2 separate regions of the Homo sapiens genome follow, and region 1 is linked to region 2. Evidence: fine-mapped expression QTL. A gene starts in region 2. The other region holds a variant in brackets. All regions are shown on one strand. Distances are from middle to middle. Region 1 overlaps VMP1 (vacuole membrane protein 1). Region 2 holds the start of VMP1 (vacuole membrane protein 1).

Evidence for each region. PIP is the estimated chance that this variant, and not a neighbour inherited with it, causes the effect. A credible set is the group of variants that fine-mapping cannot tell apart.
Region 1: its variant is the best candidate, but not a certain one, in a credible set for the expression of VMP1 in whole blood (TOPMed, PIP 0.67).

Annotation. Positions count from the first base shown.
Region 1 is chr17:59,824,636-59,830,015 of GRCh38, forward strand. The region is part of intron 10 of VMP1 (vacuole membrane protein 1); the gene reads left to right. Among named protein-coding and RNA genes, the nearest start is that of MIR21, 14 kb to the right of the region's middle. RefSeq lists an enhancer at 5,144-5,333. The variant A/C (reference allele first, on the strand shown) is at 2,306.
Region 2 is chr17:59,705,130-59,710,509 of GRCh38, forward strand. It overlaps VMP1 (vacuole membrane protein 1), which reads left to right and starts at 2,525. Exons shown (of 12, transcript NM_030938.5): 1 at 2,525-2,619. It overlaps PTRH2 (peptidyl-tRNA hydrolase 2), which reads right to left and starts at 2,301. Exons shown (of 2, transcript NM_016077.5): 1 at 2,242-2,301. RefSeq lists enhancers at 2,115-2,770, 2,571-2,630.

The sequences.
Region 1 (5,380 bases), 120 kb after region 2:
GCCGAGGTGGGCGGATCACCTGAGGTCAGGAGTTCAAGACCAGCCTGGCCAACATGGTGAAACCCCATCTCTACTAAAAATACAAAAATTAGCCAAGCGTGGTGATGGGTGCCTGTAGTCCCAGCTACTCAAGAGGCTGAGGTGGGAGAATCTCTTGAACCCAGGAGGTGGAAATTGTAGTGAGCCGAGATTGCGCCACTGCACTCCAGCCTGGGTGACAGAGCAAGACTCCGTCTCAAAAAAAAAAAAAAAAAAAAAATTGGCTAGGCATGGTGGCTCACGCCTGTAATCCCAGCACTTTGGGAGGCCGAGGCAGATGGATTGGTTGAATTCTCAGGAATTTGAGTCCAGCCTGGTCTCGAACATGGCGAGACCCAAAGTCAGGTGATAGAACCAAAGAACTAGGGAACTTCTAGCTCAAAAGGCATTATGTTAGTTGTGATTTTTTTTTTTTTTTTTTTTTTTTTTTGAGACAGAGTTTTGTTCTATTGCCCAGGCTGGAGCGCTGTGGTGCAATCTCGACCCACTGCAACCTCTGCCTCCTGTGTTCAAGCGATTCTCCCGAGTAGCTGGGATTACAGGCACCTGCCACCATGCCTGGCTAATTTTTGTGTCTTTAGTAGAGACAGGATTTCACGATGTTGGCTAGGCTGGTCTCAAACTCCTGACCTCATGATCCACCCGCCTTGGCATCCCAAAGTGCTGGGATTACAGGCATAAGCCACCGTGCCCAGCCCTTTTTGTTTTTTTAATTACGATTTAATACTAATTTTTATTTAATTTTAGACTTTCTCCAGTGGGAGAGACCTGTGCATATTTCTTAAAGAGCATAACCAAATCTAACTTTTAAAGTTATGATTAAAATGACATGTTCCCATATTCTCACCAAATAGGGGATGTGAATTCCCAGAAAATAACATTAAGCATATGACTCGCAGCAAACCATATGCAGAACATTGGCTCATTGTCATGTTGCCAGGGTCTTATTGGAAGACAAAGTCCCCAGTTTTACCACACAAGAAAAGTTTCCATAACTCAATCATTGAACTTGAGGGCTGGGGGATGGTGTTGGCTGGAACAGGGACTTTTTACCAGATACAGAATGTTCCATGCTCTTCTTTGCTGTCTCCTATTTCTGAGCTAACTTGATGCTTGACCTCAGAGTCAGGCTTGCCTGTGGCAAGAGAGATCATTTTAACCAGTGAGTAATAAAGTGCTTGAATCCGAATGTTGTTTCTTATCCCTCACTCTATGGAAAGTGGTCAGAATGAGCTACGTGGGCCTGGACTTTTTCTTCTACAGAAAGAAAATCTGTCCTTTCATTTTAGAGGATAAAATGGTCCATGTATTTGATTCTCTTTGACTTTGATCATTGAAAATAATCAGAAAAAGTTATGGAAGTGTGGAACCCCAGCATTTGTATTATCTGATGAAAGGATAGAATTTAAGGCTTAACACAGGGTTTAAACCCCAGCTGCCGAGACTCAGTTATACAGTCTAACATAACCTCTTTCTGCAGCTTGGGAAAACCCCTTTCTCTTCTTGTCCGTGGTAGTTTATATATCCTTCTCTTTTGACAGTTAACCTTTCTATATGTTTGTTATGGATATTGGGAGACCACATAAAGGTTAAAACAGGAGTTCTGGAGTTAGACTGTTAGATGAGAAATGGGTACATTGTATTTGGAAGTTACCGTTGACCATTTAATGGAGCATTTTAGTAGCATGATGAAAATTAAAACCCAAATATATTGGATTACATGGAATTGTGGGCTAGAGGAAAGGTCAAGCGAAAGTCATGTCTGACACATTTTAATTGTTTTGTAAATATTTGTTGACCAGATGAATTAATTCATTCATTAAATAGGAGGGACCAGTGTGTATTTTAGGCTGAGGGAAAAACTCTAGTAAAATGCTAGAGATAGAAAATATAAATGAAGAAAGGGAAGGATGTGGGAAGGAAATTAACATTCAGTAAGCACCCACTGTGCCAGATGCTTTACATAAATATTCATTTCATATCCATAACAAAACCTGTTAGGTACTATTACAGAGAAGTTAAATTCATATAAATGATAAGAGATGATTGAGATAGGATCAATTCTGGAGTGGATTGATTATCCTCATGAACCAGTTCTTTCTTGAAAACTGGAGTGAAGACTCCAAGATGTTTTGAGGCAGAGAAGGGGGACACTCCTGAGGGAGCACTCTGGAAGCCAGTGAAGTCATTTGCTGGAAGTTGGAAATTTAGACTAGAGCACCAGTTTCAAACAGCTGCTGTGTGAATTTGGTAGGGATGCAGCATG[A/C]ATTCTGTCTATTCTCCTGTGCACACGTGCATCCACCTGTGTGCAGCTGTAGCTAGTTACTACTGTGGTTACTTTCAATGAAAAACCTACTGGTTTCTGTAGTGTACATTTAAGTGCATTTTTTCCCCTCTCCCAGCATCCTTCTAGATAGAGTTCCTTGAGGACAGAGATCATAACTTTTTTTTAAGTGAGATTGAATTTCAATCAATACTGTCACTTTTTTTTTCTTTTTTGAGACAGGGTCTCGCTGTGTTGCCCAGGCTGATCTTGAACTCCTGTGCTCAAGTGATCCTCCTGCCTCAGCCTCCCCAAATGCTGGGATTACAGGCATGAGCCACTGTGTCCTGCCAATACTATCACTTTTTTGGTTTTTTTGTTTGTCTGTTTGTTTTTTGAGACCAAGTCTTGCTCTGTCGCCCAGCCTGGAGTGCAGTGGCGTGATCTCAGCTCACTGCAACCTCTGCCTCCTGGGTTCAAGCAATTCTTCTGCCTCAGCCTCCCAAGCAGCTAAGACTACAGGCATGCACCACCACCCCCAGCTAATTTTTGTATTTTTACTAGAGTCGGGGTTTCACCATATTGGCCAGGCTGGTCTCAAACTCCTGACCTCAGGAGGCCTCGGCCTCCCAAAGTGCTGGGATTACAGGCATGAGCCGCTGTGCTGGCCTGATTTTTAAGTTTTAGAACTCAGTGAGTCTTCAAACCAGTGCAGATCTGTCACTATAAAAAGCTGCCACCAGGCCCACTCACACCTGTAATCTTAGAACTTTGGGAGGCTGAGGCGGGATTGCTTGAGCCCAGAAGTTTGAGACCAGCCTGGACAACATGGTGAGACCCCATCTCTTGAAAAAAATTTAAAAATTAGCTACTGTGGCCCCAGCTACTCGGAAGGTTGAGGCAGGAAGATTGCTTGAGCCCGGGAGGTCAAGGCTGCAGTGAGTCGTGTTTGTGCCATTGCACTCTTGAGTGGGCAACAGAGCAAGATCCTGTTCCCAAAAAAAAGCTGCCACTGGGGCCAGGTGCAGTGCCACTCGCCTGTAGTTCCAGCTACTTGGGAGGCTGAGGCAAGAGACACAACCTCTTTAAAAAAAAAAAAAAAAGCTGCCACCAGTCTGTCATTTTCTATAAATGCAATCAGTTGATTTTTAACAGAGTTTTGTTTTGGCAACCAATCAGTTTTACCTAGTCCTTATAGACCACTCCTTTAGCTCTGGCCACATTCATCAGCACAAATGCCTGCTTTTCTCCTGCTGCTCAAGTCTGCCTTCTGAAATGAGGTTTTGTTCTCTAGAGCTTCTCTTTAATGTTAGCTTATTTCAAAGAGTAGCTGCTAATGATAAGGAAGTCTAACCTCCAATCTGATTCTTACAGAAAATAATGCTAAATCTCCAAAAGCTAGGGCAATTGCAGATTATTTTGTGATAAAATATGCTGTAAGGCAGTAGAAACAATGTACCTGATAAAATACACCTGGAGAAAGCATGGTCTTCCTTCTACACAGCCAGAAAGAAACCCATGGTGTCATGTGTTCATAATACCACTCTGCGTACAATGGACTAACTTAAGTACAAAAGAAGTTTTAATCATTTGAAAGGGCACAGATGTGAATGAAATTCAAGATGTTTTAATCCCAGATCCTGGGGTCAAATCACAACGAATTTTAGAAGGTGCCAGGGACTGTCAGTCCAAACTTGTATATATGAGAAAGCCCTAGATTTTCTAGTATAGTGTGTGATTTTCATCCTGAATTTATTTTATGTTGGGGTGCCATTCCAAGATCCTGGATGTAAAGAAACATGATTAGGGGGCTACCACATTTCAGATCCAAAGCAAGTAGAATACATCAGTTACCAGTTTTTTCTTATAGTATCAGCTTCAAAGATTCATATACTGAGCCAGGCACAGAGGCTTATGCCTGTAATCCCAGCATTTTGGGAGGTCAAGGCAGGCGGATCACTTAAGGTCAGGAGTTTGAGACCAGCCTGACCAACATGGTGAAACCCTGTCTCTACTAAAAATACAAAAACTAGCAGGGTGTAGTGGTGCCTACCTGTAATCCCAGCTACTCAGGGGGTTGAGGCAGGAGAATCGCTTGAAGCCGGGAGGTGAAGGTTGCAGTGAGCCGAGATTGCGCCACTGCACTCCATCGTGGGTGATAGAGCCAGACTCCGTCTCCAAAAACAAAACAAAACAAAACAAAAAGATTCATGTGTTCTATTCAGTTAAATGGTAAAGATAATAACACTTTCATTCCAGTCACACAGGATAACTAGATCCTTTTTTACTAGGTTAAATATGTGTTTATTTTCAGTTAGCACCTGTTCATTTACTTATTCTGGATTAATAAAGGGCTGAAAGGCTGTAGATATTAATGAGTCAGCATGATGGCCTTTGGCTTCTTCAGAAAGATTGCATGATAAACTCCCCCACCCTTTTCCGAGCAGTCTACCTTACTAGGAAAGGCAGTTTCATGTGGAGGGCAATCTGTCATTTTTGAATAAGGGCAAGAGTCTGAGGTCCATTCTGAGTCACTATGAATAGAGCTCTAGTATTGGTTGGTCCCCAGGGAAACTGGTGGTTAAATACTGTGAGAATCTTTATCAGACAGGAAATGACAACTCATTAAAATACTAGCCGTTAAGCCTGTTTAGATCACTGCCTAGGGGGTAGGAAGGAAAATTTAACTCTATAATGTTTGACTAAAATGTGCACATTTCTGAAGATGGAGAATTATTTACAAGACTGTTACCGAGAAAGGGAATTGCTAGGCTGTCTTGTTGCTGATCTTCTCCCACACCCTCTTTTCCTCTTTTGTACATATAACAGATCAGCTTGTAATGGGAGTAGGATAGGGAAGGGCTTTAATTTCATTCCTGAAAGTGTATCCTACTATTGCCTTAAATGTAAAATTCAGTCTCTTCAGCAGAAGAGGCGGTTGTTGGCTTCAGTTAGAACAGGATCATTTTCTATATAGGAGTCTACTCCTGTGCTCCTGGGCCAAATCTCAATTGATAGAACTCTCTGGGGTCAGAGGATAAATTTGATGTATTGATTTACATACAGTGGTCCTCATTC
Region 2 (5,380 bases):
ATAATCTAACAACCAGACTCCAAACTGAACAAATATGCAATGTCAGCAATTAGGATTCTCTGAAATAATTTCTAGGCTGCAAAGTAACCAAATATCCCATACACTACATTCCGGTACTATCTGGAGAAGGAACTGCTCTACATAGAGAAGCTATTATGTGCTGGATAACATACTAAATCCTTTATATCCATTACCTCATTTATTGTTGCTATGAACACATAAAAAGGAAGATATATTAGCCTCATTTTAAAGATGAGAAATATGAGGATCAAACAGAGAAGTTGCCTTTTTCTTTATTTTTTTTTAAAGAGAAGGGGTCTCCCTCTGTCACCCAGGCTAGAGTTCAGTGGCATGATCATAGCTCGCTACAGCCTCAAACTCCTGGGCTTAAGCAATTCTCCTACCTCAGCCTTCCAAGTAGATGGGACTACAGGTGCATGCCACCACACCCTCCTGATTTTTTAAAAATTTTTTATTTTTGTATGGACTTGGTCTTGCTATGTTGCCCAGGCTGGTCTGGAACTCCTGGCCTCAAGGAGTTGCTTGAGGTCGAGGCAGCAGCATCTCGAGTCCAGTTCAAAACCAATCTGGGCAACCCAGTGAGACCTCATCTTTACAAAAAATTTAAATAATTAGCCAGATGTGGTGCCACATGCCCATACTCCCAGCTACTCAGGGGATAAGGTAGGAGGACACCTCAGGCTGGGAGGTGGAAATTGCAGTGAGCCATGATCGTGCCACTGCACCCCAGGCTGGACAACAATGCAAAACCCTGTCTCCAAAAAAAAAAAAAAACCCAATAAGATCAAAAACAGGACAGTGAAAGTTCCAAAAGTTACCAAGTTTATTTATTATGTCCCATATCTCAATGGAGTGTCTAATCATAAAAATGCTAAAATTAACACATATTTTTGTTCTTTAGGATGTTCTAATCTCATATTAATCTGATCAGATTATCATCTAACTCCTCTAAAACAACATGTCTGTCTCTTTTTCTGTACACTTACGACAAGCGTATCAATAAGCCTAGTGCCTAAGACTAAGGTAAAACAAATAACCATTCTTTGTCTCATAAATAATTCTGGGCAATGACAGCAGAACAAAATAAGTACATCCTATAAAATCTTCTTCTTGGTGCCTTCTAATTCCCCTGCCTCAGTAAACCCATTTCAGTAGTGCTCTTGATCCCATTACCTCCTTCTGCACCATGCTCCACCCGTTAATCTTTTTTTAAGAGACAGGGTCTCACTATGTGGCCCCCTATGTGGCCCAGGCTGTTCTCAAACTCCTGGGCTCAAGCAATCCTCCTGTCTCAGCCTCCCAAAGTGTTGGATTACAGGCTGAGCCACCGCGCCGGGTCTGCAGTTTACAACCGAAAAAAACAAACAAACCTTTCCCAAATCTTCTCTGACCCTTAAGCCACTGCCCCACTTTCCCTGTATAACATATTCCCAGAGTCTAGTATGGTGCCTGGGGTATGTCAGTAAGGATTAATACCTCTCTAGTTAATCTCTTTGTGTGAAAAAGGGGGGAAATTTTTTCTTTCTTTTTTTTTTTTTTCTGAGACGAAGTCTCACTCTGTCGCCCAGGCTGGAGAGCAATGGAGCGATATCGGCTCACTGCAACCTCCGCCTCCCGAGTTCAAGTCATTCTCCTGCCTCAGCCTCCCGAGTAGCTGGGATTACAGGCACGCGCCACCACGCCGGCTAATTTTTGTATTTTTAGTATAGATGGGTTTTCGCCATGTTGGCCAGGATGGTCTCGAACTTCTGACCTCAGGTGATCCGCCCACATCAGCCTCCCAAAGTGCTGGGATTACAGGCGTCAGCCACCGCGCCCGGCCCCAAATTTTCGACTATATTCTTAGAAACCAATTCTTTCCACGCAGAGCTCGACAGCTCGAAACGCTGGGGATATTCATAAGTGCCCAGCTGAGGGTATGAGGCCTGCTCGCTATTTTATCAATTTCGGAGAGAGCGCATCGATACTGCCTGCCTGGAGGCTTTGCTGGGAACTAGAAATTCTGAGTCTTCCCCTCCCCAGCAGCCTGTTCCTTTCCTCCAAAGGACGGTTCGCAGAACAGGAACAGAGGGCTCAGCGGCCCCTGGGCGGAAGACAGTTTATAAAGGAGAAAATGAAGAAGGTGGGTAATGCAACGAGGTGAAAAGAAACGTTCCTACTGGCGAGAAAATGAATAATGATATTGGTCTCCTTCGCCCTGTAAGGAGCCAACCAACCTACCTACAGTACCTCCTTTCCTCACTCGCGCCTTCCCTTCTTCTGGGCAGCGAACACGTTTCTATCGCGTGAGCTACCTCTTCCGGGGTTCCTGGGTGACAAGTTCCGGATCAAGAATCACAAAGCGAGCAGTCATTCTTCCTCTTGCCACACCCACAGGGCCCGCACTAAGAGCCTAACTGAAATCCCGCGAGGATCAACCGAGCTCGCCGAAAGGAGGGAGGAACGTATCCCTTCTGGAGGCTGTCTCAGGGGGCAGAGGGACCGGACCGGAAGTGACGTGAGCGGGTTCCGGTTGTCTGGAGCCCAGCGGCGGGTGTGAGAGTCCGTAAGGAGCAGCTTCCAGGATCCTGAGATCCGGAGCAGCCGGGGTCGGAGCGGGTAGGTAAACTAACTCAGGGAATTGGGGACCGAAGCCTGAGGCTGTCCTCAGAGCTTGGCGTCTTCCGGAGCTCTCCCACTTAGGCATTGCGGATCTGGGGCACTGTGATTCCGACTTCCAGCAGTGTTTTAGGACGCTGCTGACTGGATGTCTCACCCTGGATGTCTCACGCTGGCGGTAGCCAGGTTATTTGGGACACCTTCTCATGGTTGGTCACCCGGACATTGAACCCAGACACCGGGCTGTTCGTTCTCCTCTCCGCGTACTTGGAAGCCTTGCTAGGCTTCTTTAGAGAACCTCTTAGTCCCGGGATGTCCAGGACCTTGGAGTAAGTGGAGAAGGTCTTCCCTGCTGATGACTGAGCTATTTCTCAGGATCTGTCAGTTTGGTTTTTGCTCTCCCGAACCTCTGGCGCATGATGCTAGATGTATTCGCTCCTAAACGAAATCCAGGCGTGCAAGTGCCATCTAAAGCTCTGGTGGTACAGGGTAGCCAAGGGAATGGGCCTTCGCTCCGCAGAGCCCTTGGAGAGGAACTTCTCAGATTTTTCACTGCTTTAATGAAAAAGAGTTGTCTGCCTTTCCAAACCCCTGAACCCCGACCTCTATATCTTATTACAGTGGAGGTATTTGCAGTAAAACGTGAAGGTCGACTTAATCTCTAAAATTCCAGAAACCATATGTGGCCCTGTGTCACACTGCTAGATTACTTATGACCTCCAGAAGATTTTACACAATCATCTTTTATTTACCTGCAACTCCATGTAAAAATCTAATAATACACGTAGACTGGCCACTGTTGATGTGTTTTGGCAGCATCGCTCCTTATCCTAATGTTAACGTCTTTCATTTCTACTTTGGGGCTTGTCAGAGATTTTTGTGGACAGATTACATTGATCATTTGAAGAAGCTTGTACAAGTGTTTCTGGTGTTGTCATGATAGAATTTAATATTCCAGTTGCTACTACCTAGTAATTGTATTGTCATTAGCTCTGATTTTAGTTGTGTATTCTTAGCATAGATGATGAAAGGAAGAAACTTACTTACTAGGCATCATTGTATGCATTGTAGCTTATGTTTTTACTGTGGAAGAGGGATGGTGGTACCTAGACAAATGTGACTGATTTGTGTAGGTATGAAGTGACTCTCTCGAGTAGAAATTTTATATTTTACTACTTTGCCTACATTATCTTAAGGCACTGAAGGTTACTTTTTTCCTTTGAGGGATATATCCTACTTGATTACAATTGATTAATACAGTTTAATTTCTATGAGTCACATTCCAGAAGAAAATATACATAGAACCATGATGCCTTTTACCAGTTTACCTATAGCTAGTTAAATCAGTTTGTCAGTTTACATATTTTTCTTATTTTGAGTTTGAAAATTTGTTCACGCTTGGCTTTGAAACAAGGTGACAAAATTTGAGATATGGAATTATGATAGATGTATCATTAGTTTAACATTCGGTAAATTTGCTTCTTGATTATATAACTGCCAAATCTGATCTTATCTTCTTTATGTTCAATTGAAGGACTGATTATCCAGTTTTTCTCACTTTTCCAACTTCTCGCTTTTGGCTTGAATCACCACTTTTTAGGATTTTGGTAACTATTAAACTTTAAATCAGAAGACCTGGATTGAAGTCTGGGCTCCAACACTTGTTAAGTAATGGCTGATAGGTTACCTAACATTCTGAGCTGGTCTAGATTGTGTTGATAAAAATTCTGCTCACTTTCTTTCATACAACTGTCACAAAGATTAAATGAGCTAGTAAACATGAAATTATTAAATATGAAAATATGGTATCACTTTACTCTTAGAACTGGAGATATGTCAGTGTAGAATACTGTTACTTTGCATCATTATCTGAAAATATTATCACATACTTTTCTGAGATGATCTTTGCCCCACCTTTGAAAGTTAGCAAAGAATAGTTTGATACCGTGATCCATTGAATTAGTCACCATGGTTAATAAATAGGTTCCTGGAAAATGAGTATAGTTTTGCATTCGGGAGTTTAAATCTGATCCTTTTTGGTCGTCATGTATTGTCACTTCAGAACTTCCAAGTGCAGAAAAAGCTGAAGTTTTTTGCCTACGTATAGTTAACTAAAGAGTAGAAGTAGTCCTATCTTACTTACATTAAATAAGAAACCTTATTATTGGGCCGGGCGCGGTGGTTCACGCTTGTAATCCCAGCACTTTGGGAGGCCGAGTTGGGCGGATCACGAGGTCAGGCGATCGAGACAATCCTGGCTAATACAGTGAAACCCTGTCTCTACTAAAAATACAAAAAATTAGCCGGGCGTGGTGGCAGGCGCCTGTAATCCCAGCTACTCCGGAGGCTGAGGCAGGAGAATGGCGCGAACCCAGGAGGCGGAGCTTGCAGTGAGCCGAGATTGCGCCACTGCACTCCAGCCTGGGAGACAGAGCCAGACTCCGTCTCAAAAAAAAAAGAAACATTATTATTTCACTGAAACCAATATTTAGAATTAGAAGGAATCTCTGTGAATGTATAAGTAGATTCCCATTTAACAGAGGAGAAAATTAAGGCTCAGAAACAATCAGTAATTAGTAATTGGCTTGCTTGAGGTCATCTGGCTTAGGTAGTGCTAGAACCTGAACTGTAAGGTCTCAAGTGTTCTTTCTGTTCTAACAAGGTTGTATCCAGGCATCTTATTATGGTTTGGTAATATTTCCAAGTTCACATGAAAATAATTACTCTTAGGTATTAAAGGGATCTATCCACATACACACGT